Homo sapiens: one gene and its partners. Each later gene encodes a partner of the first gene's protein in a complex. Each region holds a gene or a part of one and is shown in the gene's direction. Other genes may lie near its edges.

Region 1 (4,223 bases):
GACAAGGAGTGAGAGTGGCAGTGTAGCAGTGGCTGGCTTCTTTGGGACCAGGGAAAGTTCACAACCTATAATGTGCCCAGCACTGAGATAAGAAAACAAGTAAGCTTGCAGGTCTACCCTTTGAAAATTTGTGATTTATTTATTAAGAGTGAGGCTGAAACACACAAACTCTTTTTGAAGTTAGTCTGAAAATGCTATAAAAGAGGCAGTTGGCTCTGGGAATTCAGGCCAGTGTGAACACTGCTGACTTTGGTTGTGATGCTTCCTGAGGATCAACATTTATGTAGGGATTTAAAATGTAGAGACATGGGGATAGATAAGTCTAGGAAGAATCCCAGTTGGAGAAAAGGGCATTAGTGGTAGTTTCTGCTCAGCAACCTCTAGGACCAAGACTTCTAACCCTTTCGGCTTGTGATAGACCTTGGATTTGCTGAGACCCACTGAGGACCCGCTGTTTATCCTCCACATTTCTAATCTTGTAGTAGAAACACACTCCACCTGTTTCTTTACTTATTTCTCCTTAGGGTTGCCAGTAATTTTGCCCTGCCATCTCTCCAGTAAAAAATTAAGAGAGCAGAAGGAGAAAACCTAAGATGTATATTTTTTGGCCCATGACACACTATTTGGGAAATTCTTTCTTAGGGTCAGAACCCAGGTTGGTTCTACTTAGGGAGTAAAATTTGGTCTTGAAAAAAACTCATGAGCATATGTGTCCACTCTACTCTCTACTTACCACCCCCACACACATTTTCCTTCTCTTTCTCTTTGTTGTGTCTCTTAGAATTTTCTTGAGCTCTCCTTGAATCTTTACCCAGCATAGCAGGGACAACACAGTCCTGAGATCATCAAAAGGGGCCCAGATCTGCTTCTGGGTCCTCTGGGAGGGCTGCGGGTTGGCACAGCTCCAGGATGAGAAGGTCAAAGATGCCTAAAGATGCTGGGTATTGAGCCCAGTGTTTAGGTTGAATGTTTCCTGTGGACCAATACTGTGCTAGGAGGTGTGTGTCTTTAGCTCGGGGTTGGGGAAGATGGGAGCAGGAGGCAGGAGGTACAAGAGAAGCAGACCTTGTCTTAGCCTTCATTCACCCTCATTCTCTGTGCTTTTGGTTCCCAGGTGGAGTATGGCCCCTGTGTGGTAGCTAGTGACTGCTGGAGTCTGCTGCTCGAGTTCCTACAGAGTTTTCTAGGCAGCCACACACCAGGGGCTCCCGCAGTGTTTGGGAACAGACATGATGCGGTCTACGGCCCAGCAGATACCATGGTCCAGTACATGGAACTCTTCAACAAGATCCGCAAGCAGCAGCAGGTGCCGGTGGCTGGGATTCGTTAGTGATGAGCAGCTGCCAGCTGAGCTCTGTCACCAGGGGTACTCCACAGGAGGAGCAGGTGCTGACTTTCAGGTCCCTGGACCCCAGAAACCCAGGGTAGACATGGACTCTACTCTCCTTCTCTGGTTCTCAGCTGTGGCTTTTGTTCTGGGGCTGAGTCCCCTCCCCAACCCCCTGACTCTCACACATAGCCCCCCATCAGCTGTTTTACTCCGTGCCTTACTGGATTTGGCCTGTCCTCAAGAATGGTAATTATGAAGAGTGGAGAAGTTTGGACCTTGCCTCCTTTAGGGGAAAGGTAGGACAGGAATGTCCCTGCCTGGTACTGGTGGGGGAAATAGTCCGTATCCCCAACTATTAAGGATTTGTCCCAGGCCAATGGTGAACATGCTGCATTTTATGTTTGGATTGTGCTGTAATAAGAGCCTCTTCCTTCCCTCAGAGGATGTGGCTGGGCTTCTATCCTAGAGATGGAGTAGAAGGCACAACTGGTTTGATAGTTACTATTTTCTGACCTGTTTGCTGAAGTGATTTGCGAATTGACTTTCCTAGGGTGTTGCCTGAGTCCTTTGAAATCTCCTTCTGACATCTTTCCCTTCTGTTGTGAAATATGTTAAGCCACAGGCCAAACTGCTATAAGATCGAAGTTTGTTTTTTTCTCACCTAATAATAGAGAGGTAATCAGATGGTCTAGGGCAGATTTAACTCTACAAGGTTATCAGGAACTTTGTTTCCTTCTGTCTTATTCAGCCATTCCCAGTATGTTTTCTTACCCATAAGATCAAAGCAGACTCATCAGCTCCATATCTGCATTCCACTGGGGAAAGAGAGAGAGAAAAGAGCAGATTTTAAAAAAAAGATATGACTGAGCATTGCTCAGATCACTGTGGCCACACTTTGCTGAAAGAGATGCTGGGACATAGAACCTCTTATCTGGGCAGTCATGTGCTGAGTTAAAACTCAGGGATTCTGTGACTACAAGATGAAAGACAATTTGGTTGCTGAGATGCAGTTAATGGCTTCTGTTACATGGAGCTCAATGGACGTGCCCAGGAATGCTTTTGGCTGTTATTTTGCAGTTAATACCTCCTGTAACTAAAGCATTTGTTTATGAGTTGACTTGAGAGAAGGGCTGATCTCAGAGCCGCTTTGAGCTAAGTTGGATTAGTCACACTAGGAAGTTAATTCCACACCTTTCGTCTAAGTCTCAGTATTGAGGCCTCTCCAGTTCTCATGCACCCTGATCTTAGGGTTAGAATACTTGACCCTGATACCTGCACCATGCTTCATGGTTCCTGAGCTCTTTCTCCTGTTTCATTTGAGCCTCCAAACTACATATTTGGTCATATTGCCTGCCTACCCCATGCCTGCTGCAGAAATATTCATCCAGGTTAACCTTGATATACACAGAGATGGTCTTGGAGAATTGTGAATGTATGTACTGTATTGTCATCAAGGATACTGTCCCTTATTTGAAGGCATCTAAAGAGAAACTGTTTTCAGATCCAAGTGCTCAGATCTAAAGCCTCTGCAACAAGTCAGGTGGTGGTCATGTTTCCCTTCTAGTTTTGGCTGACAGGAAGCTCAGTTCAGTACCATAACTACAGAACCTGTCATCTGTATTTTTTGTTCTCACCCCGTTTTTGTTATTTTGTTTCTGGTTTTTTATATTGAGGTATGTTTTAGATATAGTTTACAAAAATAAAACGCACAGATCTTACCTTTTTGGCCTCCTGATTTACATTTGCTCTCGTCCAGGTTTATTTATTTGTATTTTTCTGTAGGCTGCAGCTTTTATGGAATGAAACAATGCATAGGCAGCATTTTGAACACAATGCATTTCCTGAAAATCTCCAGAAGTTGATCGTGGTAAATATAGACTCTCTAGACTTATGCATCATAAGGAGGGACTCTGTTCCCTAAAAGCTAAAAAGCAGTATAAAATCCCTAACTACACTTGGCTTTTATTTTGTTTTTTTATTATTATTATTACTTTTGAGATGGAGTTTTGCTCTTGTTGCCCAGGCTAGAGTGCAATGGTACAATCTTGGCTCACCACAACCTCCGCTTCCTGGGTTCAAGCGATTCTCCTGCCTCAGCCTCCCGAGTAGCTGGGATTACAGGCATGTGCAGTTAATTTTGTACTTTTAGTAGAGATGGGCTTTCTCCATGTTGGTCAGGCTGGTCTCGAACTCCTGACCTCAGGTGATCCACCTGCTTCAGCCTCCCAAAGTGCTGGGATTACAGGCGTGAGCCACCATGCCTGACCCTTATTTTATTTTATTTTTTTGCAATGGAGTTTCATTCTTGTTACCTAGGCTGGAGCGCAGCGGCGCAATCTCGGCTCACTGCGAACTCCGCTTCCCGGATTCAAGCAATTCTCATGCCTCAGCCTCCCGAATAGCTGGGATTAGAGGCGCCCACCACCACACCCGGCTAATTTTTTGTATTTTTAGTAGAGATGGGGTTTCGTCATGTTGGCCAGGCTGGTCTCAAACTCCTGACCTCACGTGATCCACCTGCCTCAGTCTCCCAAAGTACTGGGATTACAAGCGTGAGCCACTGTGCCTGGCCCACTTTGCCTTTTAGGCACAGTCTTGGCCTAAATTTCCAGCGTTTTTCAGTTTTGTTCTTTTCCTTCACATTTAAGCACACATTCGACCAGCTTTAAGTCTAGAGAACACCAGATTTAAGAACTGCCACTTGGGTACTTTTTCCTTTGTGTCAATTAAAGGAAATGTGTCACTAAAAGAAGCAGGTAATGTAATACATTTTTTTTTTTTTTTTTTTTTTGAGACAGAGTCTTGCTCTGTCACCAGGCTGTAGTGCAGTGGCTCAATCTCAGCTCACTGCAGCCTTCTCCTCCCAGGTTCAAGTGATTCTTCTCCCTCGGCC
Region 2 (4,447 bases), on another chromosome or scaffold:
ACAGTGAGGAATTGGAGAAATATGGAGGTACTAGAGGGCATGATTCCCAACAGAGTTGCGTTCCTATCTCCCCATCAATCTCCGCCAGTGTTGTCCTTCTCCGTCATCTCCGATCTCTCCTACCATCTGCTTTCCTTCACCCTTAGCTACCTATTTTAGCACTTCTGTGCCTTTCATCCTCCCCAGGAGATGAACTCCCTCTTGGAGAACATCGCCAAGGCCACAATCGAGGTTTTCCAACAGTCAGCAGAGACAGGGTCATCTTCTGGAAGTACTGCAAGCAACATGCCCAGCAGCAGCAAGACCAAGCCTGTGCTCAGGTCGGATAGAAACATGTTAGGACCCATCCCCTTAGGAGTTTATCTGCTGGTAGCGTGAGTGATATCAGATGCGTGGAGATGCCAGCATGTCCATCAGGGAAAGGAGAGGATAGATTGTTCCAGCCTTGCCTGGCTCCCCTGTGACCCTGTGTCCTCTGTCTGTTCTCCAGCTCTCTAGAGCGCTCTGGTGTATGGCTGGTGGCCCCCCTCATTGCTAAACTGCCCACCTCAGTCCAGGGACATGTGTTAAAGGCTGCTGGGGAAGAATTGGAGAAGGGTCAGCACCTGGGTTCCTCTTCACGCAAAGAACGTGATCGACAAAAGCAGAAGAGGTAAAGGGGCTTAGGGAGTGGACCAAGATTGAGGGGTAGAAAGGAGAAGAGGCAGGCCCGGGGAAGAATAAAATGGGCCAAGGAGAAGCATCATAGGAAAGTGGAAAATCAGAGGATAAGAGTGGGCATGGCTGAGCAAGAGGCTAGATCTTAAGAGAGTAGTCTGGAGAATGAGGTTGGAAGTTGACTCCCAACCCACAGTCTCCCTTTTCTCCTCTCCTCTTCTCTCCTCTTCTCTTCTCTTCTCTTCTCTTCTCTTCTCTTCTCTTCTCTTCTCTTCTCTTCTCTTCTTTCTCTTGTCTCTAGCATGTCCCTATTGAGCCAGCAGCCCTTCTTATCGCTGGTGCTAACATGTCTGAAAGGGCAGGATGAACAACGCGAGGGACTCCTTACCTCCCTCTACAGCCAGGTGCACCAGGTACAGATCTCTGGGCCATGGAGGTGGGCAGGAGGTCAGGGAAGGATGCACCTAAGGGGTTACTCTGTACTTGGAAACTTCAGTACTTTCTGATAAACATATTGGCTGCTGTGGGATGGAAACACGAAGATCCCTGAGCTGCATATTTTATTTGTTTCTATTCTAGATTGTGAATAATTGGCGAGATGACCAGTACTTAGATGATTGCAAACCAAAGCAGCTTATGCATGAGGCACTCAAACTGCGGCTCAACCTGGTGAGAAGGCCAGCTGGGGAGAAGAAGGAAGAGGGTAGGGCTGGAAATGCGGAGTGCAAAAGCCTCAGGTTGGGGAGAATGGGGGTAAGGATAGAGGCCCCAGGTTATTCTGAGTCTTGAAGGGTTTTTTTTTTTTTTGGAGTCAGAGTCTCACTCTGTCACCCAAGCTGGAGTGCAGTGGCGCCATCTCAGCTCACTGCAACCTCCACCTCCTGGGTTCAAGTGATTCTCGTGCCTCAACCTCCTGAGTAGCTGGGATTACAGGTGTGTACCACCACACCTGGCTAATTTTTGTATTTTTCATAGAGATGGGGTTTGACCATGCTGGTCAGGCTGGTCTTGAACTCCTTACCTCAAATGATCCGTCTGTCTCGGCCTCCCAAAGTGCTGGGATTACAGGCATGAGCCACCGTGCCCAGCCTGAGTCTTGAAGTATTAACCTTGTTCTCTGAAAGTATGCAGGGACTGAAAGTGGTTAAGGGGGCTGGATCACTGTGGTCATGGTCCAATAGGTTATGTACCCTGGATCCTTGCAGGGCCTCTGCCTCAGTATCCTAGATTCTGACTGGGCCCTAGAAGCACTGGAAACCCACTGTGGAATGTTGAATGGAATCCTGGAAATCATTCTGTCCAATTCCCATCACTTTCTAAGTATGGAAACAGAGGCCTAGAGACGTCAAGAATTCCGTCATTGTCTTGAGATCATGTAGCAAATCATAGGCTCAACTCAAGCATGGCCGGGCGCGGTGGCTCACGCCTGTAATCCCAGCACTTTGGGAGGCCGAGGTGGGCGGATCACGAGGTCAGGAGATCGAGACCATCCTGGTTAACACGATGAAACCCCGTCTCTACTAAAAATACAAAAAAAATTAGCTGGGCGTGGTGGCAGGCGCCTGTAGTCCCAGCTACTCGGGAGGCTGAGGCAGGAGAATGGCGTGAACCCGGGAGGCGGAGTTTGCAGTAAGCCGAGGTCGCGCCACTGCACTCTAGCCTGGGTGACAGAGCGAGACTCCGTCTCAAAAAAAAAAAAAAAAAAAAACTCAAGCATGAACTCAGGCGTCCCAACTCAGATTGGAACTAAGCTTTCCTGAAACTCTGGCCTTTGTCCCTGAGCCATCTGACTGACTTGTTGTGGCCCTGGCAGGTGGGGGGCATGTTTGACACGGTGCAGCGCAGCACCCAGCAGACCACGGAGTGGGCCATGCTCCTCCTGGAGATCATCATCAGCGGCACTGTCGACATGCAGTCCAACAAGTAAAGCATCCCCACCCGCTCCCTGCAGTTTCATACCCAAGAAGCTCCCCCTACTCCCATGCCAGGTGCACCCACTGAGATTGGTGTGGCTGTTACTGTGGACTCCGTGGCCCTGGGCTCCCCATACAGTTTTGGTGCCCTTGGGATGACATATTAAGCACCTCTCCCTGCTTGTGTCCTCTGCTGAGGCCTTTTTCTATCTTCACCTCTTTCTTCTTTGGTTTTCTCTCTGGCTTCCTGTCTCAGTGAGCTCTTCACTACTGTGTTGGACATGCTGAGCGTGCTCATCAATGGGACATTGGCTGCAGACATGTCTAGCATCTCGCAAGGTAGCATGGAGGAAAACAAGCGTGCATACATGAACCTGGCGAAGAAGTTGCAGGTAAGCAGAGGAAGCGGGGGCAAGGTTTGCGGTTACTGGAATCTGCTGTCCAGCCTCAGGAACTTGCTTCTGGCTGGAGCCCTCTACCTTTCCTTCTCACGTCTGCCTTTTCTTTGTTACTCATGCCGTGAGCATTTACTGAGTGGGGGTCTTCTCTGTGCCAGGTTCTGTGCTGTCCCCTGAGACTTCCCATCCCTGTTTTCTGTATCTCTGAACTCTTGTCCCATCTTCCTGTGCCTGCAGAAGGAGTTGGGGGAGCGCCAGTCAGACAGTCTGGAAAAGGTTCGCCAGCTGCTGCCACTGCCCAAGCAGACCCGAGATGTCATCACGTGTGAGCCACAGGGCTCCCTTATCGATACCAAGGGCAACAAGATTGCTGGCTTCGATTCCATCTTCAAGAAGGAGGCATGTTCCATTGTCTGCCCGTGTCCCTTGCCTTTTTTCCCCTTTGGGCAAGAACTTTGCCTGCATCAGCTTTGTAGCTCCAACAGACTCATCAGATTCAGGAGCCCATCAGTCTCTGCCGGTGAACACCATCTCTGGGGTTTTGAGCAAATCACTTAACTTTCCTTACATTTCATCTCCATCTTTGAAGTCCCACCCTCTTTCCTTCACCCTGCCCTCACCTTTTAACATACCACCCATTTTTCAATACCCTACCCTCCTCTTTCCTCTGCTCCACCTGCCCCATGTCCTACCCCACCCATCTATCTGGCCGACAGCCTGTATCTCTTTTATTTCTGTGTTTCCCTACACCCACCCATCTCTGCACACTTTTATCTTTTCCCTCTCTGTCAGTTGCGGTATTTGTTGAGTAACCATAATTATTGTGTATAGTTTAAAACCCAAAGTCTAACTCCTTCATATATACATTCTCTTCATCTGTCTTCCTAGTCCATCTGTCTCTTTTCCTCCGTCTCTGTCTCTCTCCCTGTCTGACTCGTTTGCCTTTCTTTGTCTCTCCACCTTTTTGTCTCTCTCTTCCTGTTTCTTTCTCTCTCTGACTCTTTCTCGGCCTGCCTAAAGGCAGAGTCTCTCCCTGCCTTCCTCTCTCTCTTTCTCTGCCTTCCTTTTTCTGTCTTCCTCTGAATGTCAATCCCTCTCCCTCCCCGCTCCCTCTCTGGCTTTCTCCCCAACCCCTTTCTCTCCCGATCTTCTCTCCCCACACGCCCCCCGCCCCGTTAGTTCATCTCCTCTCCTGGTCTGGGCTGGCTTCATCTTGTGCCTCCACACCTCTCCCTGTGCCCCACCCTTCACTCTCTCCCCGCATAACTCTCTTCCGCATGTATATGTGTATCCATGTCTGTCTGTCTGCTTCTTACCATCTCTCCTGAATCTGCCTATGACTTTCTTTCTACCCATTCCTACAAATGCTTGCAGTCTTCTGTTTTCTAAGTCCCAACAGCTTATTGTTTTTCATTTTCTGGAGCAGGGTCTACAGGTTTCCACCAAACAGAAGATCTCGCCCTGGGATCTTTTTGAGGG
Region 3 (4,083 bases), on another chromosome or scaffold:
ACTGCTCAGTAGTCCAGGAAAGATAATGGTTTGAACCAGAGCATAGCAGGGCATAGAGAAGTAAATGGATACAGGATGTTAGAGGTAGAGCTGACAGGGTTGAAAAATTGAATACAGGGCCAGGCGCTGTGGCTCACGCCAGTAATCCCAGCACTTTGGGAGGCTGAGGTGGGAGGATTGCTTGAGCCCAAAAGTTTGAGACCAGCCTGGGCAACATAATGAGACCCCATCTCTACAAAAAATAAAAATAAATTAGCTAGGGATAGCAGCATGCACCTGTAGTCTCAGCTACCTAGGAAGATGAGGTGGTAGAAATCACTTGAGCCCAGGAAGTTGAGGCTGCAGTGAGCCATGATTGTGCCACTGCACTCCAGCTTGGATGATAGAGGAAGACCCTGTCTCAATTAAAAATATATATTGTATATAGAAGTGAAGGAAATAGAGGAATTGATGCCTTTTTAAGTTTTCGGCTTGAATAATTGGGTGTATGGGTACGGAGACTTGGAAGATGAGGAAGGAACAAGTTTGAAGAGGTGGAAATCAAGAGTTATTTTGGACATGTTTGGTCTCCAAGATGCCTCTTTTTTTTTTTTTTTTAAACAGAGTTTTGCTCTTGTTGCCCAGGCTGGAGTGCAATGGCACAATCTCAGCTCACCACAACCTCCGCCTCCCAGGTTCAAGCGATTCTCCTGCCTCAGCCTCCCGAGTAGTTCGGATTACAGGCATGTGCCACCACACCCAGCTAATTTTTTATTTTTAGTGGAGACAGGGTTTCTCCCTGTTGGTCAGGCAGATCTCAAACTCCCAACCTCAGGTGATCCGCCCACCTTGGCCTCCCAGAGTGCCAGGATTACAGGCGTGAGCCACTGCGCCCAGCCTCCCAGATGCCTTTCATTGTCTCAAGTCTTATTTCCACATCATGACTTGAGGGAAATAGCAACAAATATTGGTATAGTACTTTGAAGTTCACAACACACTTACATGCAGTATTTAATATAAGTAGTATTTAATACTTAGAATAGCCCTTTGAGGTAGCATTACTGTCTACATTTTATAATTGAAAAAACTGAAACATGGAGAAGTTGACATCCCTTTGATTAGTTAGTGGTTGATGTCCACCAGCGGTTTCTTTTAATCTTTCTTTTGCCTTCCCTATTCTGATTGTAGCTATTTGTATCAGTCAGTTGACAGATATTGAATATATGTTCTGGGCAAATGCTGGGTGTATGAGGCGGGTGAGATGGAGAGAGAGATTAGTAATGCTGGTCATTGCTTTTCAAGGAGTTTAGTTAGGAATGTAAAATTTGTGGTTTAAGGATAGTGACTATATTTCCTGTCACCTCCATCTCATTTTGTGCTCATGCCTCACAACAGCAATTAACAATATCTTAGCCATCAATATTAAGAACTACCTAATGGTTTTCAAAGTGTGTTGCTATCCAGAATGACAGTGAGAATAAGATGTCACTTGAGCTAGACCTTGAATAATCCATATTGGTGAAGAAAAATTAGGAAGAATTTTCCTAAGATGAAATAATGTGAGGGGTGTTTTTTTGAGGCGATAAGGAGATCCATTTGGATGGATCAGAAATTTTGCATAGGAGAGTAGTGGTTGATGAGGCCCCAAAGCTAAGTTGGAGTAAGATGTAATTAGCCTTGAGTGCCAGTCAAAGGAATTTGAGCTTTCTCCTGAGGGCAAAAAGAAACCATTAAGATTTGTGAACTGAGGAGTACTGATTTCCAAAAATATCTGGAACATGTGGGTGCCATGGATTGAAATAGAGAAGCCCTGAGTGATGTTGGCAAGATTTGGAATTTCAAAACAATTTTTTTTTTTTTTATCTTGTTGGGCAGGGTGGTTCACGCCTGTAATCCTAGCACTTTGGGAGGCTGAGGCAGGCAGATAGCTTGAGTCCAGGAGTTCAAGACCAGCCTGGGCAACATAGGGAGACCCCTGTCTCTACAAAAAATACAAAAATTAGCCTAGCATGGCAGTGTATGCATGTAGTCCCAGCTACCTGGGAGGCTGAGGCAGGAAAGTAGTTTGAGCCCAGGATGCAGAGATTGCAGTGAGCTAAGATTGTGCCATTACACTCCAGCCTGGGTGACAGAGCGAGACTGTCTCAAAAAATAAATAAATATAAAAAGTAATCTTTGTAGAATAGTCAAAACTGGAATTTGAACTCTCAAGTTACAGTTTAGAAAAAGCACAGACTGCCTTCTCACCTGAGCCTTAAGGATAACCATCTGGACAGAGGAGAGTTGGCAGAGCAGGGGAAATTCAGAAGATTGTAATGGCAAGAGGCAGTGCCCAGAGTTATGAGGAGAGATACTGTGACATTGGGTCTCCTGCCATTACCCTCGCTCAGTCTTCTGAGTTGTTTGGTAGTAAAGGGAAGGAAAAGGATGAATAAGGCCTAGAGGTATAGAGGGAAAGTGCCTTGTTTATTTAATAAATATTTATTAAGCACCTAATGTGTGTACTGTGCTGGGCACTAGCGATACATGAATGAACAAGACATTGTCTGTGCCTCCAAGGAGCTTACAGTTCAGTACCTCAGTTTTCCCAAGTGAATGATTATAAACAAGCCATTTTTGTCATTTGTACCCTCTGTGTCTATCATAATTACAAATGAAGTTGTAGTTAGCTATTTCTACCCTTGCTAGTAGGTCCTTATTAAGTTACTAATAAATGTATATTTTTTAAAAAAGAATCAGCCATGCAATATTTATATGGATAGTGCCTTGCATACATATAATACTTTTTTTTTTTTTTTTTTGAGATGGAATCTGACTCTCCCACCCAGGCTGGAGTGCAGTGGTGCAAACTCAGCTCACTGCAACTTCCACCTCCCGGGTTCAAGCAGTTCTTCTGCCTCAGCCTCCCAAGTAGCTGTGACTACAGGCGCATGCCACCACACCCAGCTAATTTTTGTATTTTTAGTAGAGATGGGGTTTCACCATATTGGCCAGGCTGGTCTCAAACTCCTGACCTCAGGTGATCTGCCTGCCTTGGCCTCCCAAAGTGCTGGGATTACAGGCATGAACCACTGTGCCAAGCCTGATACTTTATGCTTTTCAGCATATTTTCATTTGAACCTTGGGAGAAAATTATGTGTATGTAAGATAGCTATTATTCCATTCCACAGATAAGAGGAAACTGAGGCATGGAAGACAGCCAGAATAATTCTAGTTGCCTGACTTGTTTTTTTGTTTTTGTTGTTTTGTTTTGTTTTGTTTTTTTTGAGACAGGGTCTCACTCTCTCACCCAAACTGGAGTGCAGTGGCCTGATCTCAGCTCACTGCAACCTCCGCCTCGCAGGGATTACAGGTGTGTGCCACTACTGTCCAGCTAATTTTTGTATTTTTAGTAGAGACAGGGTTTCACCATGTTGGCCAGGCTGGTCTTGAACTCCTGACCTCAAATGAGCTGCCCGCCTTGGCCTCCTGAAGTGCTGGGATTACAGGCGTGAGCCACCGCGCCTGGCCATTAGTTGACTGACTTCTAATCAAACATTTCTTCCTGGATGCGTGCTGTGGCTCACACCTGTAATCCCGGCACTTTGGAAAACCGAGGCGGCGGGGGGTGGCGGATCACTTGAGGTCAGAAGTTCAAGACCAGCCTACTCAACATGGTGAACCCCCTTCTCTACTAGAAAAAAATTAGCCAGGCATGGTGGTGTGTGCCTGTGATCCCAGCTACTTGGGAGGCTGAGGTGGGAGAATCACTTGAACCTAGGAGGCGGAGGTTGCAGTGAGCCAAGATCGTACCCCACTGCACTCCAGCCTAGGCGACAGAGCAAAACTCCCGTCTCAAAAACAAAAAACATTTATTCCTTTTAGGCAAGGCATCATACTCAGTATCACGAGGAAGAATAAAGATGTTGGTAACAAGTTAGGCAGTGGTAGCTAGAAAAAAATCTCCCAGTTCTTTTCTTATGTAAAGGTGATTAGTGTTTCTTGCTAGTAAAAAAAAAAAAAAGTCCTTGACAAGACCCTTAAGTCACTGGGTCATATTTGGCCCCCTGAGCATGGTTGTAGCTGAGCTGCAAGGTCGTATTTTCCTAGCTGTGTCAGAGAATA
Region 4 (4,580 bases), on another chromosome or scaffold:
GCATTTAATACTAACCACCCTGGAAGACACTGCATAGCCTTCCAGACCCAGCTCAGGTGTCTTATACCCTGGGAAACCTTCCCGATTCTTGCAGCCAGATGCTTCCTCCTCTGCCTCCATGACCTGTCACAGCCCCACACCTCTGGACTGTGAATGTCCAGGTCCCTGGGTGCTTCTGCCATTTGCTTCCAGCTGGGGCTTGGCACCCACGGGGCTTCAGGAGACTGGCTGAATAAATGAATTAGTATGTAATACAAAAACAACAAATAAATAGAAAAAATTAACCAGGCATGGTGGTGCACACCTGTAGTCCCAGCTACTCAGGAGGCTGAGGTAGGAGGATCAACTGAGACTGGGAGGCAGAGGTTGCAGTGAGCCGAGATTGTGCCACCGCACTCCAGCCTGGGTGAAAGAGCGAGACCCTGTCTCGGGAAAAAAAAAAAAAAAAAAGAGGTGGAAGGAAAATAGACCCAGTGTGTTTCCCATAACATTATGACAACTCAGTTGTTCATTCATATGTTCACTCATTAATTCAACAAATGTTTGTGGAACAAATCGTCCTGGGCACCAAGGAGTTAGTGGGCATGAGATAGGCAAGGTCCTGGCCCTCATGGAACTAGTTTGCCTGGGTGACAGGCCGTGTGTAGGGAGCCCTTGGTCATGGCCGGATGCTGTTAACATTCACTCATTTTGACCTCCTGGGGCTCCAGGCACCTGTTAGCCGATGAAAGCGGGCAGCAGAGACCCCGGGGAATGATACTGGGTAGAACAAATGGGAGTAAGTTAGAGGACTTGGGAACACCAAGTCAGAGCCCACTTGTGTCACCTAGGGGGCTTTTATTTTTATTTTGTGTCTGCCATATCAAGGGGTTTATTTGGAATTTATCATAAACTTGATATTTTAGCCATATTTTGCAGCCAGCCATAGTGCTTCTTCTGTTCAAGTTTTCCACATTTCTTTGACAAAATGTTTATTACATGTCGCCCTTTGAGCTTGTAGCACATGACTTGTACTTAGTGTTCAATAAGAGAAACGCAAGTTTTAGCATCTCAAACTGGTTAGTTTATCACACTTTTCCTCATAAGGGTTTTGTTTTGTTTTGTTTTGTTTGAGATGGAGTCTCTCTCTCTCTCCCAGGCTGGAGTGCAGTGGCATGATCTCAGCTCACTACAACCTCTGCCCCCGAGGTTCAAGTGATTCTCCTGCCTCAGCCTCCCGAGTAGCTGGGATTACACGTACCCACCACCATGTCTGGCTGGTTTTTGTATTTTTAGTAGAGATAGGGTTTCACTTTGGCCAGGTTGGTCTTGAACTCCTGACCTCAAGTGATCCGCCCACCTCGGCCTCCCAAAGTGCTGGGATTACAGGCATAAGCCATTGCACCCAGTCACTTCCAACTGTTTTACAGGGTCATGCCTGTAATTCCAGCACTTTGGGAGGGTGAGGAGGCGGATCACCTGAGGTCGGGAGTTCGAGACCAGCCCGACCAACATGGAGAAACCCTGTCTCTACTAAAAATACAAAATTAGCTGGGCGTGGTGCCGCATGCCTGTAATCCCAGCTACTCGGGAGGCTGAGGCAGGAGAATCACTTGAACCCAGAAGTCGAAGGTAGTGGTGAGCTGAGATCGTGCCATTGCACTCCAGCCTGGGCAACAAGAGCGAAACTCCATCTCAAAAAAAAAAATTTATCACCCCAAAGAGGACACCCCATATGCATGAAGCACTAGCTCCCCATTCCCCCATCCCCCCATCCCCAGCCAGGGTGGTTTTGGCTCGAGTCCCAGAAAGGCCCAGGAAAATATTGGCTTAATTTCACCTGTAGCAGAACAGCTGGGTCCAGAGTTGGTTCACCCCAACTCTTTGCACACAGTTGAAGTTTCTGCGTGCAAAGCTGTCTTGATGCCGGGCACAGTGGCTCACGCCTGTAATCCCAGCACTTTGGGAGGCCGAGGCGGGTGGATCATAAGGTCAGGAGTTCGAGACCATCCCGGATAACACCGTGAAACCCCGTCTCTACTTAAAAATTAAAAAAATTAGCCGGGCGTGGTGGCGGGCACCTGTGGTCCCAGCTACGAGGGAGGCTGAGGCAGGAGAATGGCGTGAATCCGGGAGGCGGAGCTTGCAGTGAGCGGAGATGTGCCTCTGCCCTCCAGCCTGGGAGACAGAGCGAGACTCCGTCTCAAAAACAAAAGCTGTTTTGATGGCTAGGAAGAGGAGGGCTGGGAAGTGTGTGGTGGGTTGGGAGCAGCGCCCGAGTGCCCTGAGAGCAGGAAGAAGGCTCAGGGGCTCAGTGTGCTCACTGGCCGGGCCGAGTGGGACTGGAAGGAAATCAGTGCGAGAACTCAGGCAGGAAGCGGAGAGCCCCGCTGCATGGCCCTGCCAGGCCACCAGTGCACTGAGTACTCAGCAGATGGTTCCTAGGCCTTGTGTGACCTAGGGTCAGACGCCTTGGTGTCTCTCTTGGAGGGCTGCACAGGGTGCGGAGAGAAGCTTGACAGCTGCAGTATCGGGTGATCTATGATGTGACTAAGGGCAGGCCGTAAAATTAGGTGGCATGTAGGGAAGGCTTCCTATAGGAGGGCACACCAGGATGGGTGTCGTAGTTTAGCTGGATTCCATCCGGGCCGGAATGGGTGTGTTCCAGCACATGCAGAGACCTGGATGTCTGGGCTTTGTCAGTTGAGAGGACCTATAGGTGCGGGCATGGAGCAGGAGAGATGGACGGGGTGCAGGACTCGGAGGCCTCGGATGCTGGGCCGATGCCGGGCCGAGGGCCTGGGTTGGTTCCAGTCTTGATGGACACGGTTGGGCCTGTAGACGTTCATTCACTTAGCCTACATTTCCTGAGGCCTCACATGTGCCCCGCTGTGGTGGGCAAGCCTGGGGGTAAGAGAGGACTCAGACCCCATCCCCGCCTGTGGGAGAGGTAGGATCAGAGACCACACTTCAGGGGGACAGGGCCCTCAAGACCCTCAGAGGGGTGCTCGGTCTCCACACACGTCCCCTGCAGCAAAGGTCAGCCTCTCACGACCACGTGACCGGAATAATGGTGGCAACCACAGCTGCCCTTGAGGAGAGGCCATCCCCGGGCCACAACCCATGTGGGACGGATGCTGCGACGCGACTGCAGATCAGGCGGAGGAGAAACGAGAGTCTGTGTGTGTTAGTTTCCCAGGCTGCCGTAGCAAAGTATGAGAAACTGGCCAGAAGAATGGAAATTGATGTCTCAGGGTTCTGGAGGCTGGAAGTCCAAAATCCAGGTGGTAGGGCCAGGCTGTCTCTGAAATCTTACAGGGGAAGGGCCCTTCTGCCTTTCCTGGTGCCTGCTGAGGCTGCATCACCCGTCCTCACATGGCCTCTCCCTGTGTCTCTCTGTGTCCTTGTGTCTTCCCTCTGTGTGTGTGTCCGTGTCCACGTTTCTCCTTTTCACAGACACCAGCCATAGTGGATTAGGGCCCGCAATTTAACTCGATTACCTGTGTAAAGATCTTTCCAAATTAGGTCACCTTCTGAGGTACTGGGGCTTAGGACCTCAACCTGTCTTTTTGAAGGGGGCACACTTGAACCCATAAGACTAGGAGGACAGAGGAGGCCCCCGTCTCTGGCTGGGAAGGTGAAGTGGGGCCAGGACTGATTTGGAGCAGACAGCCCAGAGAGGGGAGGGGACAGCAGGAGGCTGGGCATGGAGTCAGTCACTCCAGGGTTGGAGTCAGCACAGGATCCTAGGCTTGGGGTCCCCAGCCCTTTCCCATTCCCTCCCAGTCCTCATGATTAAAGACAACAAATGTCGGCCGGGTGTGGTGGCTCACTCCTGCAATCCCAGCACTTTGGGAGGCTGAGGCAAGTGGATCATGAGGTCAGGAGATGGAGACCATCCTGGCTAACATGGTGAAATCCCGTCTCTACTAAAAATACAAAAAATTAGCCAGGTGTGGTGGCAGGCACCTGTAGTCCCAGCTACTCGGGAGACTGAGGCAGGAGAATGGCATGAACCCAGGAAGCGGAGCTTGCAGTGAACTGAGATCATGCCACTGCATTCCAGCCTGGGCGACAGAGCGAGACTCCATCTCAAAAAAAAAAAAAAACACAGACAGCAAATGTCCCCTGTCCTGTCTGGGACTGGTGCTGTGCTAGCACCAGGGATTGGGTAGGGAACTCAGCAGGGTCCCCGTCATCCCAAGGTGCATAGCCCAGGATAGAGTGGGGGACAGCATGGGAGCAGGCTCTTCAAGCATAGCCTGGGGATGGGGATGATGGCAACCCTGGGGGCTGACCGCTCTGCCCCTGCAGGTTCATGGGCGGGGGTGGTGAGAGCTGCAGCCTCATCGCGGAAGGACTCAGCACAGCCTTGCAGCTGTTTGATGACTTCAAGAAGATGCGCGAGCAGATGTGAGTGCCCCCTCCACCCAGGCCGGGCCGGTCTCTCTCTGCCTGGCCTGGAACCACTTTGCCTGTCGAGTGGTTCTACCTCCAGCCTCACCCTGTAGGGCATGGGCTCTGTGTCCCCAAGCACGCTGAGCCAGGAGGCTGCAGGTGTGTCCTTGGGGGACGCCTGGCCAGTGCCCGGTCTCAGCATC
Region 5 (4,580 bases), on another chromosome or scaffold:
ATATCTGAAATCTGTCCATGTTTCTCCCATCACGATTACTAAGTCCTGGAGGCTATAACCTCGTCAAAACCAGTGTCATTTTTTGCCTGGAACACTACAGAAACCACCTAACTTACTTCCTGTTCTGGCCCTCTTACAGTCTATTTACCAGATCACTCAACAGTTTTTAAAAGTATAAATCAGGTCATGCCATTTCCCTGTTTAAAATAACCCAGTGGCTTCTCATTGCATTTAGAATGAAACACTAGGCCGGGCGCAGTGGCTCATGCCTGTAATCCCAGCACTTTGGGAGGCCGAGGCCGGCGGATCACCTGTGGTCGGGATTTCGAGACCAGCCTGACCAACAGGGAGAAACCCCATCTGTACTAAAAAAAAAATACAAAATTAGCCGGGCGTGGTGGCACATGCCTGTAATCCCAGCTGCTAGGGAGGCTGAGGCAGGAGAATTCTTTGAACCCGGGAGGTGGAGGTTGGGGTGAGCCGAGATCGCGCCATTGCACTCCAGCCTGGGCAACAAGAGCAAAACTCCATCTCAAAAAATAAAAAATAAAAAAAGAATGAAACACTAATCTTTACCATAACTATAAGGCCCTACGTAATCTCACCCCTAGCCACCTGGCTGCTACATCCTCACTTTGCTTTCCTCTCCCCATTGTGCCAGGCCCTGGCTACACCTCCTCAGCTCCATCTTTGGGGCACTGAACTGTCTGTGTCTTCTACTGTGCTCTTTCCTTCCAGACATCTTGGCTGACTTCTCTCATTTAATCCGTGTCTTATGTCAAAGCTGTGCCCTTAGGAAGACCTTCTCTGACCACCCTATTGAAGTAGCCAACCCACTCCCCCAGTAGTCTCTAATAAAACATTGCTTTATTTCCTTCCCAACCCTTATCACTCTAGGTTTATTTCTTCTCTTAGTTCTTCTTGTCTCTTGTATTAGAATTTAAGTGCCATTGTTCACTTTGATACCCCAAGTATCTAGAAAGTGCCTGGCACATGATAGGCACTCAATAAATATTTGATGAATTAGTGAATAAATGAAGACTTTGCATTCTTATATCTACTTTTTTCATTCATTGATTAATTCATAAATAATGGTATGGGGAAGTAGTAGTGGGAAGGGTTGGGTCTAATTGACATGATCCAGAAAAATGATATGATGCTAGCTGGAAGGAAGGTGGAAATTTGAAGGTAAAAATAGCCTGGTAGCCAGTGAGAAAGTACAAATGCTCAGGCTGATCAGAGCAGTGTCAGGTAGCTAGTTGTGAAGCTGCCCCTTCTGCATAATTTCTCAAAAGTCCCATCTATCAACAAGTTTGAAACTAATATATAAACATTACCTGCTATACATTTTTCCCAATCTTATTTTGCTCATCAGATACTAATTTTCATACAGGGAAATTGTCATATTTATTAAATGAGCATTCTAAAAGGATATCATTTTATTATGTGTAAGGATCCCTCTTAGTTGATGTTTAATTTAAAAAATTCAAATAAAGTGGAGAATCATTAAAAAATGGTCCATGCATCCCTTAATTGTTTTATTTTACCTTAAAATATATAAACATATGTTCATTCACTAATCATGTTATGTAAGACAGGAGTCAGAAAACTTTTTCTGCAAAGGCCAGATAATAAATACTTTTGGGTTTATGGGCCATATAGTCTCTGCTGTAACAACTCAACTCTGCCTCTGTATTTAGGGAAAACTGCCATAGACAATTTGTATATTAATGGGCAGACTGTCTTAGGAAAATGTTATTTACAAAAACTGCAGAAGTGCTGGATTTGGCCTGTAGACCCCTGATGTATGAGTTTTTCTTGCATAAATCGCTCATAATGCATTGTCTGCAATTTGTAGTTTGATTTCTAGATCAAATCAAAATGAGAACTTATCCTCTTATCAAGCAGTCTTAGGGCAGACCCTTAGTTTTTATGACTTTTCCCTGGTCCTTTCTTTATAGCTGTCCTTTGCAAGCCTCTGTAGAGTCTTTCCAAGCATTAGGCTTAGGTTTTTATAGAAAGAACTCTCTCTATTCACAATAGTCTTTCATTGGCATTTAGGTGATAGCTATTTATATAATGATAGTATTAAGTAGAACTTTTATAAATAAGTTTGGTAACCGGCACAAGCGAGTCTTGGTGAGCTGTAGTTCACAGTCAATAGCGGACTGTAGGGAGTAGCCCTGAGTGTTCAGTATGCTGTGAAAGGGTTTTTGTTGTTGTTGGTTTTTTTTTTTTAGGGAACTTATAGAAATGCTGGCAATTTCAAGAAACCAAAAGTTGTTACAGGCTGGAGAGGAAAACCAGGTAAGTGGCTTCTTTTTAAATTAGTTAATTTCTCTTTGTTTTTTAATTAAAAGAAAAAAACTTGATTTCTGCAAGTTTCCTCTTTATATTTACTTTGTGTGGGAACAGGAATGTTGGATCCTTTTAAGTTATTAATTAAAACTTTAATATTGGTATTTTCTTTGTATCATTTACTTAAGATAACAGTGCGCTTAAGAAGAATAGTTGCCTGAGGGTTTAGCAGTATTTTGTTATTTTCTCTTACAATTCTAGTCACACTTACATGTTTATTTATTTTTGTCCTTTGAATTAACCAAGAAAGGCTTGTTGTATGGAGATTACAACAATATTTAGAATCAAAAGTTAATGCTCAAAAACTTACCGTGTATTGTAAGTATAGTTCCCTAATGCAACTTGAACATGCAGGGAAATAAAAGAGCATACAACTCTTATTAGACATTGCCTTATAGGGGTGAAAGTACGGGCAGTTTTTATTTGCTCACTTTTCGGTGCTTTCTAATTTTCCATGGTGGGTGAACAGACTTTTTTTCCTGATTCAGAATTTTTTTAGAGGTAAGAGGATAAATTTTATATTATGTTTTTGGCACAGTTTTTTCTTTTTTGAGACAAGTTCTCGCTCTGTAGCCCAGGCTAGAGTGCAGTGGCATGATGACTGCTCACTGCAGCCTCAACCTGCTGGACTGAAGCGATCTCCCACTTATCCTCACCAGTATCTGGGACTATAGGCATGCGCTATAATGCCTTGCTAATTTAAAAGAAATTTTTTTTTTTGGTAGAGACATAGTCTCACTGTGTAGCCCAGGTCAGTCTTGAACTGTCTTGAACTCCTGTCCTCAAGGGATCCTCCCCACCTTGGCCTACCAAAGTGCTGGGACTATAGGCATGAGCCACCATAGCTGGCCAAAAAAAATGTTTAAGAGAAAATGAATGGAGAGGATTAACCTTTCTAAAGATGATGTAAAGGAGAAGAGGAGACAGTAATAAATCTTTTGTCTGCATCATTACCTTAGTTCTGTCTTACGTTTTGAGGGCAGGGAAATCTGACGGACTCAATAGAAAAGTGTCAGTGAGCCTCAAAAGGGGAGGAGGGGATCCAGATGAGGCCACAAGCTAGGAGAAACAGCTAACCTTAGGGGTAGTAAGGTTTTTGTTTTGTTTTTTTTCAAAAAAGAAAGAGGCTAGAGATAAATATGTTAATAGAAGACTACTAGTCTCTCAGGTACTCTGTTAATACCCGTGGGATTAAATAGGAATTTATACAAAGTATGCAAGAAGTAAAATGCAAGGCTTGACTTTATTTGATAGACACTTATTAAATGCTTGCTATGAGCCAGGCACACAGATTATTCAGAAGGTGATAATTAAGACCTATAATCAGCACTGATCTTTCTTGCACTTTTTAAAGAGTAGCAATTTGTGAATTGTGTCTTAGTACTGTGGATTCCTATGTAATTTTCATTGAAACTGTTACTATTAGAGAGGGATGTGCCCATTTGAAAATTTTCTAGCCACCATTTTATTTGGATATTTATAATTTTATATAGAATTTTAGAATTAGAAAGGATCTTAACGATGTTCAGTTCAACCTCCTGTGAGAATAAGCTCCAGGGTGGACGGATGAGGTAGAGGTTAATGGTGAGTGGAACCAGAACCTAGGTCTTCTGACTTTAGTTGAATAATTTTTTTCTACTGAACAATAAGATCTAAAGAGAATATTTTTTACTCATGGGTAGTATACAAATTAATTCAACCTGTGTAAACTTCTTGAAAGTTGTCAGGGAACTACTGTGTACTACTTGCTTTAATAATACAGCTTTTATAGAAATGGAAACCTAGCTTTCTCCTACGATGTGGGAGGAATGAGGATTAGAAGTCTGTTAAATAAATAGAATATACTTTACTTTTTACAGAAAAAGCTTTCTGTTGTTATTTAAAATACTCTTAATATTTGGCAGTTTGTAGCTCAGTCTTTTGTCTATTGTATTAGAAGAATTCCTATAAAATGAGAAGAACTTCATGTCAAAAGGATCTTGAAGAGGCATACCTGTACTTTTTAGTCTTCAACAAATCTTTTTAAATAGTTTTAAAATTGATTCTGAATTTTGATAGATATTTTCTTTCTGAAGTAGTATTCTCTACTTAGCACAGTAAAGGATATTTAGACTAGACTTGCATCTTAATTCTGTACTGGGGTAGTGATCGTAATAACTAGCCTTTGCTGAACTCTTCCTGTATGTACTTAAAGTGCAATATATCATGAATCCTCACAATAG
Region 6 (4,580 bases), on another chromosome or scaffold:
GGGGCTGGGAGCAGTGTGGCCAAGGCTGCTGGCTCCTGCTCCCCTGGTGCTCAGGGACTGTGTAACTAAAGAAAGAGTGGCTGGGGGCACGGGCGCTGGATGCCGATTGGCGGGGGCTGACCCCCTGGATGGGCAGCCCCGGCTCTCCACACCCTGCAGAGCAGGAGGCCCCTCCCCCGGCGGGCGTGTCCTGGGCCCTGCCCATGTCTAAGCAGTGCCTGTGCCCCACAGGGCTGGCCCTGGCCTTCCACGACGGCAGCGTCCACATCGTGCACCGGCTCTCACTGCAGACCATGGCCGTCTTCTACAGCTCCGCGGCCCCGAGGCCTGTGGATGAGCCGGCCATGAAGCGCCCCCGCACCGCGGGCCCCGCCGTCCACTTAAAGGCTATGCAGCTATCGTGGACGTCACTGGCCCTGGTGGGGATTGACAGCCACGGGAAGGTGAGCTGCTGGGGCACGTGGGGCCGGGGCTGGTGGGCATTGACAACCAGGGGAAGGCGAGCTGCTGGGCATTGACAACCAGGGGAAGGTGAGCTGCTGGGGCACGTGGGGCTGGCCCTGGTGGGGATTGACAGCCAGGGGAAGGCGAGCTGCTGGGGCACGTGGGGCTGGGGCTGGTGGGCATTGACAACCAGGGGAAGGCGAGCTGCTGGGCATTGACAACCAGGGGAAGGCGAGCTGCTGGGGCACGTGGGGCTGGGGCTGGTGGGCATTGACAACCAGGGGAACGTGAGCTGCTGGGGCACGTGGGGCTGGGCTTGGGGGGCATTGACAACCACGGGAAGGTGAGCTGCTGGGCATTGACAACCAGGGGAAGGCGAGCTGCTGGGGCGTGGCCCTGGTAGGCATTGACAACCAGGGAAAGGCGAGCTGCTGGGGCACGTGGGGCTGGGGCTGGTGGGCATTGACAACCAGGGGAAGGCGAGCTGCTGGGGCACGTGGGGCTGGGGTTGGTGGGCATTGACAACCAGGGAAAGGTGAGCTGCTGGGGCATGTGCGGCTGGGGCTGGTGGGCATTGACAACCAGGGGAAGGTGAGCTGCTGGGGCACGTGGGGCTGGGCTTGGTGGGCATTGACAACCATGGGAAGGTGAGCTGCTGGGCATTGACAACCAGAGGAAGGCGAGCTGCTGGGGCATGTGGGGCTCGGCTTGGTGGGCATTGACAACCATGGGAAGGTGAGCTGCTGGGCATTGACAACCAGGGGAAGGCGAGCTGCTGGGGCACGTGGGGCTGGGGCTGGGGCTGGGGCTGGGGGGTATTGACAACCAGGGGAAGGCGAGCTGCTGGGGCACGTGGGGCTGGGGCTGGGGCTGGTGGGCATTGACAACCGGGGGAAGGTGAGCTGCTGGGACATGTGGGGCTGGGGCTGGGGCTGGTGGGCATTGATAGCCAGGGGAAGGTGAGCTGCTGGGGCACGTGGAGCTGCGGCCGGGGCCGGGGCCGGGGCCGGGGCCGGGGCTGGTGGACATTGACAACCAGGGAAAGGTGAGCTGCTGGGGCACGTGGGGCTGGGGCTGGGGCTGGGGCTGGTGGGCATTGACAACCAGGGGAAGGGGAGCTGCTGGGGCACGTGGGGCTGGGGCTGGTGGGCATTGACAACCAGGGGAAGGGGAGCTGCTGGGGCACGTGGGGCTGGCCCTGGTGGGGATTGACAACCAGGGGAAGGCGAGCTGCTGGGGCACGTGGGGTTGGGGCTGTTGGGCATTGACAACCAGGGGAAGGTGAGCTGCTGGGGCACGTGGGGCTGGGGTTGTGGCTGGTGGGCGTTGACAACCACGGGAAGGTGAGCTGCTGGGGCATGTGGGGCTGGGGCTGGGGCTGGTGGGCATTGACAACCACGGGAAGGTGAGCTGCTGGGGCACGTGGGGCTGGGGCTGGTGGGCATTGACAGCCAGGGGAAGGTGAGCTGCTGGGGCACGTGGGGCCGGGGCCGGGGCCGGGGCTGGGGCTGGTGGACATTGACAACCAGGGAAAGGTGAGCTGCTGGGGCACGTGGGGCTGGGGCTGGGGCTGGGGCTGGTGGGCATTGACAACCACGGGAAGGTGAGCTGCTGGGGCACGTGGGGCTGGGGCTGGTGGGCATTGACAACCAGGGGAAGGCGAGCTGCTGGGGCCCGTGGGGCTGGGGCTGGGGCTGGGGCTGGTGGGCATTGACAACCAGGGGAAGGTGAGCTGCTGGGGCACGTGGGGCTGGGCTCGGTGGGCATTGACAACCACGGGAAGGTGAGCTGCTGAGCATTGACAACCAGGGGAAGGTGAGTTGCTGGGGCACGTGGCGCTGGGGCTGGGGCTGGGGGGCATTGACAGCCAGGGGAAGGCGAGCTGCTGGGGCACGTGGGGCTGGGGCTGGGGCTGGTGGGCGTTGACAACCACGGAAAGGTGAGCTGCTGGGGCACGTGGGGCTGGGGCTGGGGCTGGGGCTGGTGGGCATTGACAACCACGGGAAGGTGAGCTGCTGGGGCACGTGGGGCTGGGGCTGGTGGGCATTGACAACCAGGGGAAGGCGAGCTGCTGGGGCATGTGGGGCTGGGCTTGGTGGGCATTGACAACCACGGGAAGGCGAGCTGCTGGGGCACGTGGGGCTGGGGCTGGGGCTGGGGCTGGGGCTGGTGGGCATTGACAACCAGGGGAAGGTGAGCTGCTGGGGCACGTGGGGCAGGGGCTGGTGGGCATTGACAACCAGGGGAAGGCGAGCTGCTGGGGCACGTGGGTCTGGGGCTGGGGCTGGGGCTGGGAGGGTGCCAGAGGGAGGCGCCCCCGGGGGAAGGGACCACAGGTGCAAGCCCCTCGCCAGCCCCTGCCTGCGCTGCCTTGTCTGTGTGATGGGTTCGTCTTGTTGAGCGAGGTCAGTGGGGTGGCTCACAGCACGTATTAGGAGCTTCGTAACTAGGAGCTGTTGAGAGGACCGCCTTTCACGGGGTAGACTCCTCAGGTAAAGCAGACGAGTGTAAGCCTGGCTCGGCATCCAGTGCAGTCGGGGCTCAGGGAGGTTTCCTTCCCTGTTCCCAGAGGCATTGTGCATGACCCTGACAGAAAGGTACAGACGCTACAGACACATGCGCGCACACAGGCCCACACACGGGCGTGCGCGCACACAGATCCACACACGTGCCGCAGCCCCAGGGCCCCATTCCTCTCCCGGCTGAGGGCGCAGCCCCATCTCACCGGGCTCTCCTTGGGCTCTGTCTCTGGCAGCTGAGCGTGCTCCGCCTCTCACCTTCCATGGGCCACCCGCTGGAGGTGGGGCTGGCGCTGCGGCACCTGCTCTTCCTGCTGGAGTACTGCATGGTGACCGGCTACGACTGGTGGGACATCCTGCTGCACGTGCAGCCCAGTATGGTACAGAGCCTGGTGGAGAAGCTGCACGAGGAGTACACGCGCCAGACCGCTGCCCTGCAGCAGGTGGGGGCCCGTGGCAGGTGGGGCCCCGTGGCAGGTGGGGGCCCTGTGGCAGGTGGGGGCCCCGTGGCAGGTGGGGCCCCGTGGCAGGTGGGGGCCCCGTGGCAGGTGGTCCCGTGCCAGGTGGGGCTGTCCCTGTGGCAGGCAGGGGCCCCGTGGTCAGTAAAGTGCCAGCAGCAGGGAGGGAGTTCCCTTGGAGGGTGGAGGAGGTCTCTGCAGCAGTTGTAGAGGTCCCCACGGCAGATGTGGGGGTTGTGGCAGCTGGAGGGGTTTCCCTGCGGCAGGTTGGGGGCTCTATGGCAGGCGGAGGGCAAGAGGGGCAGGTAGCCTGTGGCAGGTGAGGCTGCGTGTGGGGTGTGCTCCCAGAGGCCCGTCCAGGAAAGCTGCACCTCAGAGAAGCAGTTTCCTTCCTTACCTGGGAAGTTTCTTCTGTAACACGTTAAGCCCCACAGGTAAGGCCTGATCCCCCCTGGACGGCTCCCCTCTCCAGTGTTCCCAGTCTGGAGGTATCTTTCTAAGCCATCCTCTCAGAATGTGATGGGTACCAGGATGCACACCCGGTGGCCCTGTGGTGTGAGGCCTCAGCAAACACGGTCAGAAGATGAACACACAGAGACCCGCCCGTCGGAAGGAGAGGAGGGAGCGGATACGGAGGCCCACGTGCCAGAAGGGTCCCTTGCAGTGGTGTGGTTATGTGCCTGCAATCCCAGAGTGTCCTCGAAGGACCTCAGATCTAACGAGCTCAGCCGGCAGCTGCACGTGGGACCAGCCCTCTGAGCTTCACTTGTTTTCCTCTGTGCCATCAGAAACCAATACGAAGATAAAATGGGAAAAAAAAAATCCCATTCACGGCACAGCCTGCCGAGAAACGCGTGAGACCCAGGCGGGGGCTGCGAGGCTAAACCCCAGCGTGGCTGGGATCCGTAGCCAGTGACAGCGCTAGTGATGGCGAGACCTCGCCCTCTCCCTCCTTGGGCCGTCGCTGTGTGCCAAGCGTTTCATTTTTGTTTTTAGTTGTTTCTATTTTTTGTAGAGATGGGGTGTCCTACGTTGCACAGGCTCTCCAACTCCCAGCCTCCAGGAATCCTCCAGCCTCAGCCTCCCAAAATGCTTCAGCTCATTCATTCATTCTCTCTAGACCAGGGTCTCCCCGTAGGCACCACAGACATCGGGGGCT
Region 7 (3,888 bases), on another chromosome or scaffold:
TTGTGTGTGTTTCCTCTATTACAACAATGCTATAATAGGAGAATGTATCCAATTTAAAAATGAAAAATGCTGCTTGGATTAATAGAGCTAGGATCAGGATCTAGGTTTGTATAGCATCTGAGCACTTATTGCTCCATTACAATTAGCAAAACCTGGGCAAAGCCATTTAGTCATAAGTGACTTTATGACTAGTTAGATAAATATGAAGGAGTAGTGGAAAACGAGTCAGTAGAGTTGACTTAGATTATTGAAAGCTTCAAAACAGCCTGAGTTGGAGATTTATCTTGAAGACAGTGGTGGAGTAAGCTTAAATGTTTTGATCAGGTTAAAATAAATAACCTGGTGAACTGGAAAACAACAAGAAGACTATTGTAATAATTCTGGTGTGAGATAATTGGTTGAACTAAGCAACAGTGATAGAAGGAAAAGAGAAAGATTTGTAGTATTAGCAGAATATGAAGATCAAAGGAAAGTAAGAATCTGAAGTTAGATTGGTTGACTAGGAGACTTTCAATACAAATTAAATATTAAAAAGAGGAAACAGTTGCCTTTGAGTTCTGTCATTGAAACAATGGCAGAGAAACCCAGTGGAAATACTTATTAGAAATAGGAGGTTTGAGAGGTCAAGACTAGGTGAGAGAAATTGGTAGGGAAGATAGGTGTATTTAATTTGGAGATGGTAAGGAATTGCTATTCCCAATCTTTAAAAGTACTTAAGGAATACTTTTAGAGTACAAGAGTTTACAAATTGAGTCTTGAACAAATACATTTCTGCTTACTTAAGGTGCTTTTCTGAGCAGCCTCTTCCTCACTATTTCTTTACACTTGTAACTACTCCAGTCTCAGAAAAGGAATCATATACTTTGTGCATGAGAAATAAATTTTTATTAAACATGGTGCCATAGATATTTACAAGTCAAATTTGCTCTTTTCCATCACTATCCCCAAAAAGTCTTTACTTGTGGCTTACAATAAGTATTGGCCAATATTCTCTTATCATTTTACTATCACAAGAAAAGAAAGATTATTTTGTATTTCAACTGTTTCAACTAGATTTATATCAAATTTAACTTTACCTAGATTGATACCAAACTTAGTTTCTTTGCAGAATTAAAACGTTTAATCAACATTAATAATAACTGGCTTATTTTATCAACAATCACTCCTTTCTGTTTTATTCCCTTGCTCAGAGATTATCATTACAGAAACTTATTGTTGTTGCCATTACCAATAAAGTCCTTAAAACTGATAAGTCCTTTCTAACCTTGATATGTTTTCTTTGGCCTAAGCTTGCAGATCAGTTTTGTAATGCCATTGGAGTATTGCAGCAATGTGGTCCTCCTGCCTCTTTCAATAATATTCAGACAGCAATTAACAAAGACCAGCCAGCTAACCCTACAGAAGGTAAACAGGTTTTCTTAGCTTCTCTTAGTTTGACTCTCACATTTTTTGTAATCCTTTAAAATTAGATTTCTTGAGAAATTCAGCTTATTTTATTTCTAAAATTATTGTTGTTTGAGAATATTACAAGTTTTGTTTGTTGTAAAAAATTTACAGTCAATTCACCTAACATCTCATAATTCTGGTTCATGTCAGATAATAGATTGTTACTCCTTTAGAGGAGAATTTGTATTAATTTAGCTGAGTGAGGGACCTTAACAAGGAAGGCATCCCATTTATAAATTTCTTTATTCAGGTGACCACTATATTGTCATAATAAATGAAATTACATACATTATGCTTAATTCCCAATTTGAGCTAAATGTGTAACAGGATTGGTGTATATTTTAATCATTAGAATCTTCTTTTTTTTTTTGAGACGGAGTCTCGCTCTGTCACCTAGGCTGGAGTGCAGTGATGCAATCTTGGCTCACTGCAACTTTCGCCTCCCGGGTTCAAGGAATTCTCCTGCCTCAGCCTCCTGAGTAGCTGGGATTACAGGCTCATGCCACCACGTCTGGCTAATTTTTGTATTTTTAGTAGAGATGGGGTTTCACCATGTTGGTCAGGCTGGTCTCAAACTCCTGACCTCGTGATCCGCCTGCCTTGGCCTCCCAAAGTGCTGGGATTACAGGCGTGAGCCACCACGCCTGGCCGAATCATTAGAATCTTAGGGCAGAAAAAGCTATATGAAGTTTCTGGTTTCATTAACTTAAAATTTGTTTCTGAAAACTTGAGGTTTTCTAATATCCTAATCTAGCAGTATCTTTCTCTAGAGTATGCCCAGCTTTTTGCAGCACTGATTGCACGAACAGCAAAAGACATTGATGTTTTGATAGATTCCTTACCCAGTGAAGAATCTACAGCTGCTTTACAGGTAAGCCTCTATTCCTTTGAGAATTTTACCAGTAATAGAGAATTTTGAATTAAAGGAGGTAGATTTAGTACCTTTTGTCTGTGTCCATTTGTGCTGCTATAACAACATACCTGAGACAGTAATTTATAAAGAACAGAAATTTATTTTCTCACAGTTCTGGAGTCTGGGAAGTCCAAGATCAAGGCATTTATTACTCACTGTGCATGAGTAATGAATTTTTATTAAACATGGTGCCATGTTTAGGGCCATGTTGAGGGCCTTCTTCCTGTTTCCTCACATGGCTGAAGGCAGAAGGGCAAAAGAGCAAGAGCTCCCTCTTCAACCTCAAGCCATATTTTAAGGGTACTAATTCCATCTATGAGATCTCTGCCTTCATGACTTAATATCCTCTTAAAGGCCCCTTCCCTCTTAATACCATCACATTGGGGATTAGATTTTAATGTATGAATTTTGGAGGGGATGCATTCAAATCATAGCACCTTTTGTTATAATATTCAAATTTCCATTATAAGGAAACCTCTTATTTTCCTCAATTTTGTCTCTTTTCCTAGTGAAGAATGAGAGGAGGGTGGCATTCTACAATTGGAGTAGAATAATGGTGTCTAAACGTAATGTGTAAGGGAGTCACTTAAAGATATCTAGAGATCTCTAATTGAAAAGTCATTCTTTTTAATAATTCACATGGGGAAAATTCTTAAAAGTTGTCTGATTTTTAGAATTTCTTTACTGAAAAACATATCACAATGATTGCAAAGTCATCCAGATTTAAAAATAAGTACATCTGTGACAGCTTCTCTTTCTAAACTCTAAAGATTTTAAAATTTGTGTCTTATAAAGGCTGCTAGCTTGTATAAGCTAGAAGAAGAAAACCATGAAGCTGCTACATGTCTGGAGGATGTTGTTTATCGAGGAGACATGCTTCTGGAGAAGATACAAAGCGCACTTGCTGATATTGCACAGTCACAGCTGAAGACAAGAAGTGGTACCCATAGCCAGTCTCTTCCAGACTCATAGCATCAGTGGATACCATGTGGCTGAGAAAAGAACTGTTTGAGTGCCATTAAGAATTCTGCATCAGACTTAGATACAAGCCTTACCAACAATTACAGAAACATTAAACACTATGACACATTACCTTTTTAGCTATTTTTAATAGTCTTCTATTTTCACTCTTGATAAGCTTATAAAATCATGATTGAATCAGCTTTAAAGCATCATACCATCATTTTTTAACTGAGTGAAATTATTAAGGCATGTAATACATTAATGAACATAATATAAGGAAACATATGTAAAATTCTGTTATGACATAATTTATGTCTCCATTTTGTTGTATTGGCCAGTACTTTTACAAATCAAAACATCTCTCAAGCCAAAGGAGAAGACAGTAAGAACAGACATAAGGGACATTTTAGTTTGGGCTAGTGTCCTGCCTCTTAGAGGTGGCATTGTGTAAATCTGAGCTTTGAGCAAGAAAGTTTTGGAAATTGTGTTGCTTTTAAGAAATAGAGTTAGTGTGGCTGGATAAGAAAGTCACATTTATGCAAATGTTTCTTCTGCTAGAACCTCAT

What was found.
Region 2: MED20 (region 1) and MED12 share a complex: the UniProt entries of both Homo sapiens proteins name them as parts of the mediator complex.
Region 3: MED20 (region 1) and MED19 share a complex: the UniProt entries of both Homo sapiens proteins name them as parts of the mediator complex.
Region 4: MED20 (region 1) and MED25 share a complex: the UniProt entries of both Homo sapiens proteins name them as parts of the mediator complex.
Region 5: MED20 (region 1) and MED4 share a complex: the UniProt entries of both Homo sapiens proteins name them as parts of the mediator complex.
Region 6: MED20 (region 1) and MED16 share a complex: the UniProt entries of both Homo sapiens proteins name them as parts of the mediator complex.
Region 7: MED20 (region 1) and MED21 share a complex: the UniProt entries of both Homo sapiens proteins name them as parts of the mediator complex.

What each region holds. Positions count from the first base shown.
Region 1 is NC_000006.12:41,904,179-41,908,401, reverse strand, and holds the end of MED20 (mediator of RNA polymerase II transcription subunit 20), read left to right. Parts: intron 1-1,114; coding exon 1,115-1,330; 3' UTR 1,331-3,048; downstream 3,049-4,223. UniProt on the Homo sapiens protein: Component of the Mediator complex, a coactivator involved in the regulated transcription of nearly all RNA polymerase II-dependent genes.
Region 2 is NC_000023.11:71,131,887-71,136,333, forward strand, and holds part of MED12 (mediator of RNA polymerase II transcription subunit 12), read left to right. Parts: intron 1-186; coding exon 187-320; intron 321-490; coding exon 491-652; intron 653-958; coding exon 959-1,070; intron 1,071-1,236; coding exon 1,237-1,326; intron 1,327-2,470; coding exon 2,471-2,580; intron 2,581-2,826; coding exon 2,827-2,962; intron 2,963-3,205; coding exon 3,206-3,367; intron 3,368-4,394; coding exon 4,395-4,447. UniProt on the Homo sapiens protein: Component of the Mediator complex, a coactivator involved in the regulated transcription of nearly all RNA polymerase II-dependent genes.
Region 3 is NC_000011.10:57,705,895-57,709,977, reverse strand, and holds part of MED19 (mediator of RNA polymerase II transcription subunit 19), read left to right. Parts: intron 1-4,083. UniProt on the Homo sapiens protein: Component of the Mediator complex, a coactivator involved in the regulated transcription of nearly all RNA polymerase II-dependent genes.
Region 4 is NC_000019.10:49,824,156-49,828,735, forward strand, and holds part of MED25 (mediator of RNA polymerase II transcription subunit 25), read left to right. Parts: intron 1-4,293; coding exon 4,294-4,392; intron 4,393-4,580. UniProt on the Homo sapiens protein: Component of the Mediator complex, a coactivator involved in the regulated transcription of nearly all RNA polymerase II-dependent genes.
Region 5 is NC_000013.11:48,088,079-48,092,658, reverse strand, and holds part of MED4 (mediator of RNA polymerase II transcription subunit 4), read left to right. Parts: intron 1-2,240; coding exon 2,241-2,307; intron 2,308-4,580. UniProt on the Homo sapiens protein: Component of the Mediator complex, a coactivator involved in the regulated transcription of nearly all RNA polymerase II-dependent genes.
Region 6 is NC_000019.10:875,800-880,379, reverse strand, and holds part of MED16 (mediator of RNA polymerase II transcription subunit 16), read left to right. Parts: intron 1-231; coding exon 232-443; intron 444-3,199; coding exon 3,200-3,406; intron 3,407-4,580. UniProt on the Homo sapiens protein: Component of the Mediator complex, a coactivator involved in the regulated transcription of nearly all RNA polymerase II-dependent genes.
Region 7 is NC_000012.12:27,025,131-27,029,018, forward strand, and holds part of MED21 (mediator of RNA polymerase II transcription subunit 21), read left to right. Parts: intron 1-1,289; coding exon 1,290-1,404; intron 1,405-2,216; coding exon 2,217-2,317; intron 2,318-3,154; coding exon 3,155-3,331; 3' UTR 3,332-3,888. UniProt on the Homo sapiens protein: Component of the Mediator complex, a coactivator involved in the regulated transcription of nearly all RNA polymerase II-dependent genes.